2 separate regions of the Homo sapiens genome follow, and region 1 is linked to region 2. Evidence: fine-mapped expression QTL. A gene starts in region 2. The other region holds a variant in brackets. All regions are shown on one strand. Distances are between the middles of the regions.

What was found. PIP is the estimated chance that this variant, and not a neighbour inherited with it, causes the effect.
Region 1: its variant is fine-mapped to the expression of LINC01589 in aorta (GTEx, PIP 0.94).

The regions. Positions count from the first base shown.
Region 1 is chr22:45,608,193-45,612,583 of GRCh38, forward strand. No RefSeq gene overlaps it. Among named protein-coding and RNA genes, the nearest start is that of LINC01589, 4.7 kb to the left of the region's middle. The variant T/A (reference allele first, on the strand shown) is at 2,718.
Region 2 is chr22:45,603,143-45,607,533 of GRCh38, forward strand. It overlaps LINC01589 (long intergenic non-protein coding RNA 1589), which reads right to left and starts at 2,505. Exons shown (of 2, transcript NR_131244.1): 1 at 2,259-2,505; 2 at 1,290-1,616.

The DNA.
Region 1 (4,391 bases), 5.0 kb after region 2:
AAACAGTCAAGTCCTAACATCCTACATGGGGAAATCTACGCAGTTAGCAGAGCCAAATATGACAGCGACATGAGCCAGCCACTTTGAACCTGACGTTTCATCGTCACGTGAGACTGTAGCTCTCTGAGTCCCACACCCTGGTCACCTTGTCCTGGTTCCTGCACCTTTGAGGGTGAGTTATTCAAGTCAGCCGGTGGAGTAGACGGTGCTCCTGATCATTCCTAAAAGGCAACAGCCTTTTCTGCATTTCTTGCAGGAAAAGTCAGACAGATCTGAGAAGAAATCTCCAGATTCCCCAGAAAGCACTCTCTTGAACATCCTTTCCTGTGCATACACAGCAGGTGTTTAATTCTTGCTCTAGGGAGCAGAGCCCGTCCCAGTGTGAAGAGTGGCTTTGCACACAAGAAACTATTTCTCCATTGTCTCCCTAGATTAGAGAGGCCCCCAGTTGAAACTGCTTCCCCTGAGCCTTCGGTATTAGAAACTGGTAAAACCCCTCCAGAAGCATCGCCCTGGAAACTTGAGCACCTCAACCCCCAAACTCAGATCCCAGCAGAGAAAGCCTTTGGCATCCCAGGACCGAATGCTAACGGCGCTGAGGTCGGGTGAATCCGCTCTGGCCTGTGGTGATGGTGACTTGCTGTTGAGAACCTTAGTGTTTTGAGTGAACAAGAAGAAATCTATTCCAGCATGATTATTCCAATTGGGATTTAGGAGGACTGGGCATTCTCCACATTCCAGTCTTCTTCAGTTCCATGGGCTTAAGAGGGGGCTTATTTTTTTCTTTCTGTGCCACAAAAACTTGGCAGCGATGACTAACCTAGGGTAACATGAGAAAGCTTACTAGGTCGGTCTGTGGCTTTCCTGCTAGCTTTCCTGTTTGTCATACGACAGTGAGACCAATGCCAGCTCATCATGGCACAGAGAGCTTTGGGTGATCTTTGCAGCTGGATGTGAGGCCCAGCTTGGTGGGCTAATGCCCTGGAGAATGGGTACCTTGGGTGTTCAGTGAGAGGCACGGTAGGAGTGGGGTAGGGGTGAGAGGAAAGAGGCATGCGGAGCTCAGAGGTAGAAGCACAGCCTGTTTCTAATAGACATTAAAAAGAAAGGACACTTTTGGCCGGGCGCTGTGGCTCACTCCTGTAATCCCAGCATTTTGGGAGGCCGAGGCGGGCGGATCACCTGAGGTCAGGAGTTCGAGACCAGCCTGGCCAACATGGTGAAACCTCACCTCCGCTAAAAATACAAGAATTAGCCAGGCGTGGTGGCACATGCCTGTAGTCCCAACTACTCAGGAGGCTGAGGCAGGAGAATCACTTGAACCTGGGAGGCAGAGGTTGTAGTTAGCCGAGATCATGCTACTGCACTCCAGCCTGGGTGACAGAGTGAGACCCCATCTCAAAAAAAAAAAGAAAAAAGAAAAAAAAGAAAGAAAAAGAAAGGACATTTCTAACTGGACAGGGATGACCTTCGTTAGAGAAACAGCAGCAACTTGGCCTTCACCAGCCCCAAACAACACTGCCAGGTTGAGATCATTACTACCATTTTGCAGAGGACAAATGTGAGCCTCAGAAACGAAGAAACTCCCCCAGAGTAGGACACGGCCAAGCTGTTTCTTACCCTCCGGCCTCCTGTGCTCTTTCCATGACAAGCAGAAAGAAGAGGCTACCTTTGGTTTAAGGTCTCGATAAACTTTGACACTGTGGAACCAATCCTTCCTCCTTGCAAACAACATTCAGTTCAACTTGGTGAATCTCTATTGACCATTTATTATGTGCAAATGCCTGTATGCATGAAATAAAATTAAAAAATAAAATATGCATGAAATTAAAACAACACACAACAATAACCAGGCATGGACACAAGGCCTAGGAAGGGCTTGGCATGAACACACTAAATCAATTTAGCCGAGGAGACCATTCCCAATATTCTGGAGGGGGCAAGTCTGATATTAACTCCCCGGGGAAAAGAGCCCTTTCCTCGCTTACTCCTGGTAGGACCAAACCCAATATCTAGCACTTTTTACCAACTCTTTCAAGATCCTCCCAGAGAGTTTTTTCATCTGTATCAGTTCTCTCATCTGAAAAGTGAGCCTAATAATTACTACCTTGCAGGAGTTTGGGGAGTATGAAGCAAGATGGTGACTACAAAACGTGGGCACGGTGCCTGGTCCGGAAGAGGAGCTCAGAAAATATCTGTTCCAGTTCTTCTCTTCCTTTCCCAGGCACGTGCCTTTGTGAGTTCTCAGTAAATGTCACCTCACTCTCCTTTTTTAAAAAAATAAAAATTTTTCGGCATGTCTCCTATAACTCAGGTACAGGGCTAGGCCCAGAGATACAGTGATGAATGAGACACAGTGGTGGTTACGGGACTTACCAGCAGGATAACGTGAAGGCTGGCACGGGGTCTTTCAGGCCCAGTAAAAGCAAGTTTCTTTCATTGTTTATTGCAAATTTACTGAACTACGTTTTGTTTTCATCATTTGTGTTTTCTTAATTTTCTCTCAATGCACCAAACTGTTTAAGACAAAGCTCGTTTCAATTTCATAAGAGAAATGAATTCTAGAAGCAGGGTCCAATGAAGTTGGCCATTATTTAACTTCACTAACGTGAATAAAAGCAACCTATGCTTTTAGTATACAAATAATTTTGTAAAAGGTAAAGAGTATCATAATAGAAATCACCCTACACGATAGCCAAAAGGCGGAAGCAACCCAA[T/A]TGTTCACCAATGGACAAACGGATAAACGAAATGTGATCTATGGCCAGGTGCAGTGGCTCATGGCTGTAATCCCAGCATTGTGGGAGGCCAAGGATGGCAGATTTTTTGAGCCCAGGGGTTTGAGCCCAGCCTGGGCAACATGGCAAAATCCTATATCAACCAAAAAAGAAAAAAAAATTAGCTGGATGTGGTGGTGCATGCCTATAGTCCCAGCTACTCAGAAGGCTGAGATGGGAGGACCACTTGAGCCTGGGGGGTGGGAGGTTGCAGTGAGCTGAGATCACGCAGCTGCACTCCAGCCTGGGCAACAGAGCAAGACCCTATTTCAAAAAAACAGAAAACCAGGCCCGGCATGGTGGCTCTTGCCTGTAATCCCGGCACTTTGGGAGGCCGAGGCAGGCAGATCACTTGAGGTCAGGAGTTCAAGACCAGCCTGGGCAACATGGTGAAACCCCATCTCTACTAAAAATATAAAAATTAGCCAGGTGTGGTGGTATGCACCTGTAATTCCAGCTACTTGGGAGGCTGAGGCAGGAGAATCACTTGAATCCCGGGAGGCAGAGGCTGCAATAAGCCGAGATCGCGCCATTGCACTCCAGCCTGGGTGACAGAGTGAGACTCCGTTTCAAAAAAAGAAAAACAAACAAACCCAAAATGTGGTCTGTTCATACAATGGAATATCATTCAGCCCTAAAAAGGAAGGAAATTCGGACACAGACCACAAGATGGATAAATCTTGAGGACATTGTGCTCAGTGAAATAAGAGTCGCAGTCACAAAAGGACGAATACTGTATGATTCCACTCAGATGAGGAATCTAGAGGAGTCAAATTCGTAGAGACAGGAAGCATTCATAGAATGGTGGGTGCCAGGGCCTGGGGCGAGGGGGACAGAGAGCTGGTATTTAATGGGGACTTAGGGAAAATGAGAAAAGTTATGGAGGTGAATGGTGGTGAAGGCTGTACCACGATATGAATGAACTTAGTGCTGCTGAAAATTATACGCTCAAAGATGATTAAAATGGTCAATTTTATCTTATGTATATTTTACCACTTTGAAAAATGTTTAATAAATAAAAATAAATTTTTAAAAAAGGCTGAATGAGGTGGCTTATGCCTGTAATCCTAGCACTTTAGGAGGCCGAGGTAGGAGGATCACCTGAGGTCAGGAGTTCGAGACCAGCCTGGCCAACATGGTGAAACCCAGTCTCCACTAAAACAAAAATTAGCTGGGCGTGGTGGCGGGCGCCTGTAGTCCCAGCTACTCAGGAGGCTGAGGCAGGAGAATCGCTTGAACCCAGGAGGCGGAGGTTGCAGTGAGCCGAGATCACGCCACTGCACGCCAGCCTGGGCAACAGAACAAGACTCTGTCTCAAAAAAAAAAAAAAAAAAGAAAAAAGAAATCACCTGAAAATGAACATTGTAAAACTTCTGTCTTACGGAGAGTTGCCCTAGGCCGATTTCTGCAGTTTCTTTTTCTCAGTAGAGGGCTCCTGTCGCAGCTTCCAGGTTTTCATTTACCTCCCTTCCTACTGAAGTGAGTTGCGCTCCAGGCTTCTCCCAGGAGGCACCCAGAGTGCAAATGCTGCCCAGCTACCAGCTGGAGCTGACACAAGCCTGCTGTAATTTGATGAGCGAGCAAACCCCTGTCCCAGAGCAGGAGTTGAGATCATTC
Region 2 (4,391 bases):
ACATCTGCAAAGTGGAGATTCCCAGATGGCAGTGAGGAGCGCTGGAGAGCATGAGTGCAAGAGGGCTTTGTGCATTGCAAAGTGCTGCATCCGTGTGTGACGGCTTATTATCATTAACCGTTAAAAGCAGCGATGACGGTGATGACGATAATGGTTGCCACTGTCAATCGAGCCACATGAACGCGCTCTGGAAGCTTGGCATCTTTTCAATCCGGCATTTCCTTTTCTTAATCATCCTGGAGAGACTTGGTAGACAGTTGTGTAAATTACCCACCAGCTTAACTCTTCATATTTCATATCATGCTATGGGTTGGGCACCTGATGGACCCATAAGTATCTCATTATACTTGCAAAGTAATTACTGTCAGAGCCTCGCATCAGCGGCATTAAGGGACCAGCTAATGGGAGCTGGAGGTGCCTCTGAGTTCCTCCACAACAGTGATTCCTTCTTAATTGTAGCCTTAGAACAAGATAACTGAGGGACATTGCTAAAGGCAAAGCAGTTTATAAGCAGCATGAGACAGCAAAACACACAGAGACACCAAGTTGAATCCTTCTTGTTGATCTGGTAGAAGAAACTTGGAGGGAAGGTCCCAGAAGGTGTCATAGAGTGGTATTCGACCAGAAAGCTGCCTGTTTTTTTTTTTTATTCCTAAGGGACATCTATTCTACTGTACAGAGGAAGTCTGTGGCATGTGTCAGAAGTGCCTGGGCTGCCCAGGGTCCTAGCAGGACCCGTTTTAACATGCAGGTGGGCATTGAGTGGAGGGTGCCAGGGCCCACCCAGCCAACCCAGCCAAGCCAGCCAACTAGAATTCGAGGAGGTAAGCCAGCTTTTCCAAAGTTCTCAAGTTTGTCCAGGTGAAAAAACACCTGGAAATCAAGGGTTTTTTTCCTAATATTGTAACATGAAAATTTTCAAATATACAGCCGAGTTGAAGGAATTTTACAGTGAATACCAGGGCACCTTCCACCTAGATTCTGCCACTGACATTTTATGAGATTCAGTTGCATTTTGAAGAAATGACAATATGATGAATTAATAAATACAAATAAGAAACTTACAGTTTCTTGTAGGCTTGCGCTCAAATCCAGCCACTTACTAGCTGTGTGTCCTTGGGCACATTGCTTAATGTCTCAGAGCCTTGGTTTTCTCTACAACGAAATGAAAATAAGGACACATACTTCACAGGAGTGATTGTTAGGATGAAAGGGGATGATTACGTAAAACAGTGCAAGAACTGCTACACAGGAGGTCCTCCATAAATAGTACTGTCATGACACACACACCCGAAAGGATAGTCTTTATTCAGTTAGATGCCACATTTTATTAAAGTCTTGTGTGGACAAGAAGTGAAACCTCAGAGGAATTTATGAAGAATAATTGGAGGCACTTCCTTGTGACTTGGCTTCATCCGGACCGGATGACTTCTGGGTGCCAGCAACAGTTCCCCATTTCCATTCACGTTTCCCCACATCGTTCATGCCAAAGAGATGGGTGCCAAGAGGCCATCCGTCTTCATCCTGGACATAGAATGAGACGGGAACTCACTCTTGAAGGACTTTTGAAGTCTCAGAGAAGAAACGGAGCCACCGTAGACCTTTTGAAATACGGCCTGTGAGAAGCACGGTGACAGTCACCATTACTACCAATAATCACATTACTCTTTGTGGGAAAAAAGACCTACTATGTGCCAGGAAGGCTTCGGTAATCATCTCCAACACACACACATTCTCTCACACACACATGTGCGCATGTGTGCACACACACACACACCACACACACACACACACACACTCCGCAGCCCTTCTGCCATGCCCAGCTCAGGGCCATCTTCTCCCACAAGGATGCCGGTCTCATCTCCTGAAATGAGGTTGCAGTGAGCCGAGATTGAGCCACTGCACTCCAGCCTGGGTGACAGAGCGAGACTCCATATAACCTCTGCCTCCTGGGTTCAAGAAACTCTTGTGCCTCAGCCTCCCAAGTAGCTGGGATTACAAGCGCGTACCACCACACCCAGCTAATATTTTTTGTATTTTTTAGTAGAGACAGGGTTTCGTCATGTTGGCCAGGCTGGTCTCGAACTCCCAACCTCAGGTGATCTGCCTGCCTCAGCCTCCCAAAGTGCTGGGATTACAGGCATGAGCCACCGCGCCCGGCCTGATCTCAGTCTTTAAGAGAGCAGCAGCTCATCTGTGGCCACTGCTTCCCAGGGACTTGCCAGAAGGGAGGTGCAGGGCACAGGGAAATAACCCACCTCTATCTGACGGCTTCAATGGTATCGAATGTCCTCAGTGGCAGCACGCAGCACAGAAGCTGAGGTGTGGCTGCATTCCATTTGGAGAATTCCACTGTGATTCATGGTGTCAGCTGCGGGTTCAAGGTGTCACAATTTAATTATTAAACATCATGAGGCATTAGGAGGCTTGGGCACGCACTGATAAGTGATCCATTTCTAACACAGCTGGTTTATTACTGTTTGTGGCAGCTCCTGCACGAATTGGTGTCCGTTAACTAAGCAATGGTATTATAATTACACATTTAAATTATGTATGGGAAGGGTGTCAGTGGTAGAAGTCAGACTGCAGTGATTACTTTCAGTCTTCAGACCTCCTGGATGTAGTCTCTCTGCAGATAGCTGTAACTCTGGCTTGTTTTCTGCTCATTTTCTGCAGACATGTAGAATCCACTGCTAGGGTCCACTGAGCTGTCTTCTGGGTGGTTTTTGGTGCTGCAGGAGATAAACACATGTGTCTTCCTGGTTGGACCCAGTTGATGCACTAACCTAATTCTGTCCTTTGCCTGCCCTGATCTCCATAGCCTGCTTCTTCCTGGAAATTTGCTGCTGCTGCTGCTTCTTTTTTTTTTTTTTTTTTTTGAGACAGGGTCTCGCTCTGTCGCCCAGGCTGGAGTGCAGTGGCGTGATCTCAGCTCACTGCAGTCTCTGCCTCCCGGGGGTTCAAACCATTCTCTCTGCCTCAGCCTCCTGTGTAGTGTGGATTACAGGCACCCCCCACCATGCCCAGCTAATTTTTGTATTTTTAGTAGAGATGGGTTTTCACCGTGTTGGCCAGGCTGGTCTCGAACTCCTGACCTCAGGTGATCCACCCGCCTCGGCCTCCCAAAGTGCTGGGTCTACAGGCGTGAGCCACCGCGCCCGGCCGGAAATGTGCTTCTTTAGAGGAAAGCACCGTTGATCCCACCTCCTTGATCTGGTTTCTAAGACCTCATACAAACTGGGCCCGTTAGTCTTTGCTCCCTGATACTATCTGATACCATCTGGTCTCACTCCTTCCTTCCCATCTTGTTCATTCATTGGTTCACTCATTCATTCACTCACTTCACGCCCTCCCTCTGGTGAATCAGTTCCCCTCTGTCCTCCCCACTCTGTCCAGTCCTCCCCTAGGCTGCCAGGTTACATTTCCAAAACTCCGATCTGATCAGGCCCTCTTGGTCTCAGATCCTCCAAGGGCTTCCTTCAAGGGCTCCTGCACCAACCTCGTGGTGTGGCTGTGTGACATAATAAGAAACATTCACTTCTATTTGGTCTCTTTCCGGGTTCCTGACACAAAGCTCCTAATCCCTTGTCTTTGGTTTAATGAGGTGACTCTCAGTGGCTCCTGGGTGGGGTTGGGGGCTGAGCACCAGAAAGACCCAGATTCGACGAGGAGCCTGGAGCTTTTGGCTCCACCCCCACCCTCCAGGAAAGGGAGAGGGGCTGGAGATTGAGCTAATAATCCATCACGCGTAAGTAATGAAGCCTCCGTAAAAATCCCTGAACTACAGGATCCAGAGAGCTTCTGGGCTGGTGGACACATCCGCATGCTGGGAGGGTGGCGCCCCCCAACTCCACGGGGACAGAAGCTCCTGTGCCCGGGCCCCACCAGAGCTCGCCCTGTGTGCCTCTTCGTCTTCCTGTTCATCTGTATCATCAATAATGTCCTTTACAAGGACATTATTGTCCTTGTGATAATGAATGAGGAAGGAATTATTCCATTCAGGAAGGAATGAGACCAGATGGTATCAGATAGTATCAGGGAGCAAAGACTAATGGGCCCAGTTTGTATAAGGTCTTAGAAACCTATACATGTAACCAAAGTGTTTCCCTGAGTTCTGTGAGCCATTTTAGCCAATTACCAAACCCGAGGAGGGCGTTCTGGGGACCCCTGATGTGTAGCCAAGTCAGACGGAAGTGTGGGTAACCTGAGCGCCCAATCTTTGCAACTGACATCTGAAGTAGGGACGGTCTTGCAGGACGGAGCCCATATCCTCTCGGGCCTGTGCTAACTCTGGGTGGCCAGCGTCAGAATTGAACTGAAGTGTAGGACGCCCAGATGGTGTCTGCAGAGAGCTGGCCGGGCGTGGTGGCTCACGCCTGTAATCCCAGCAC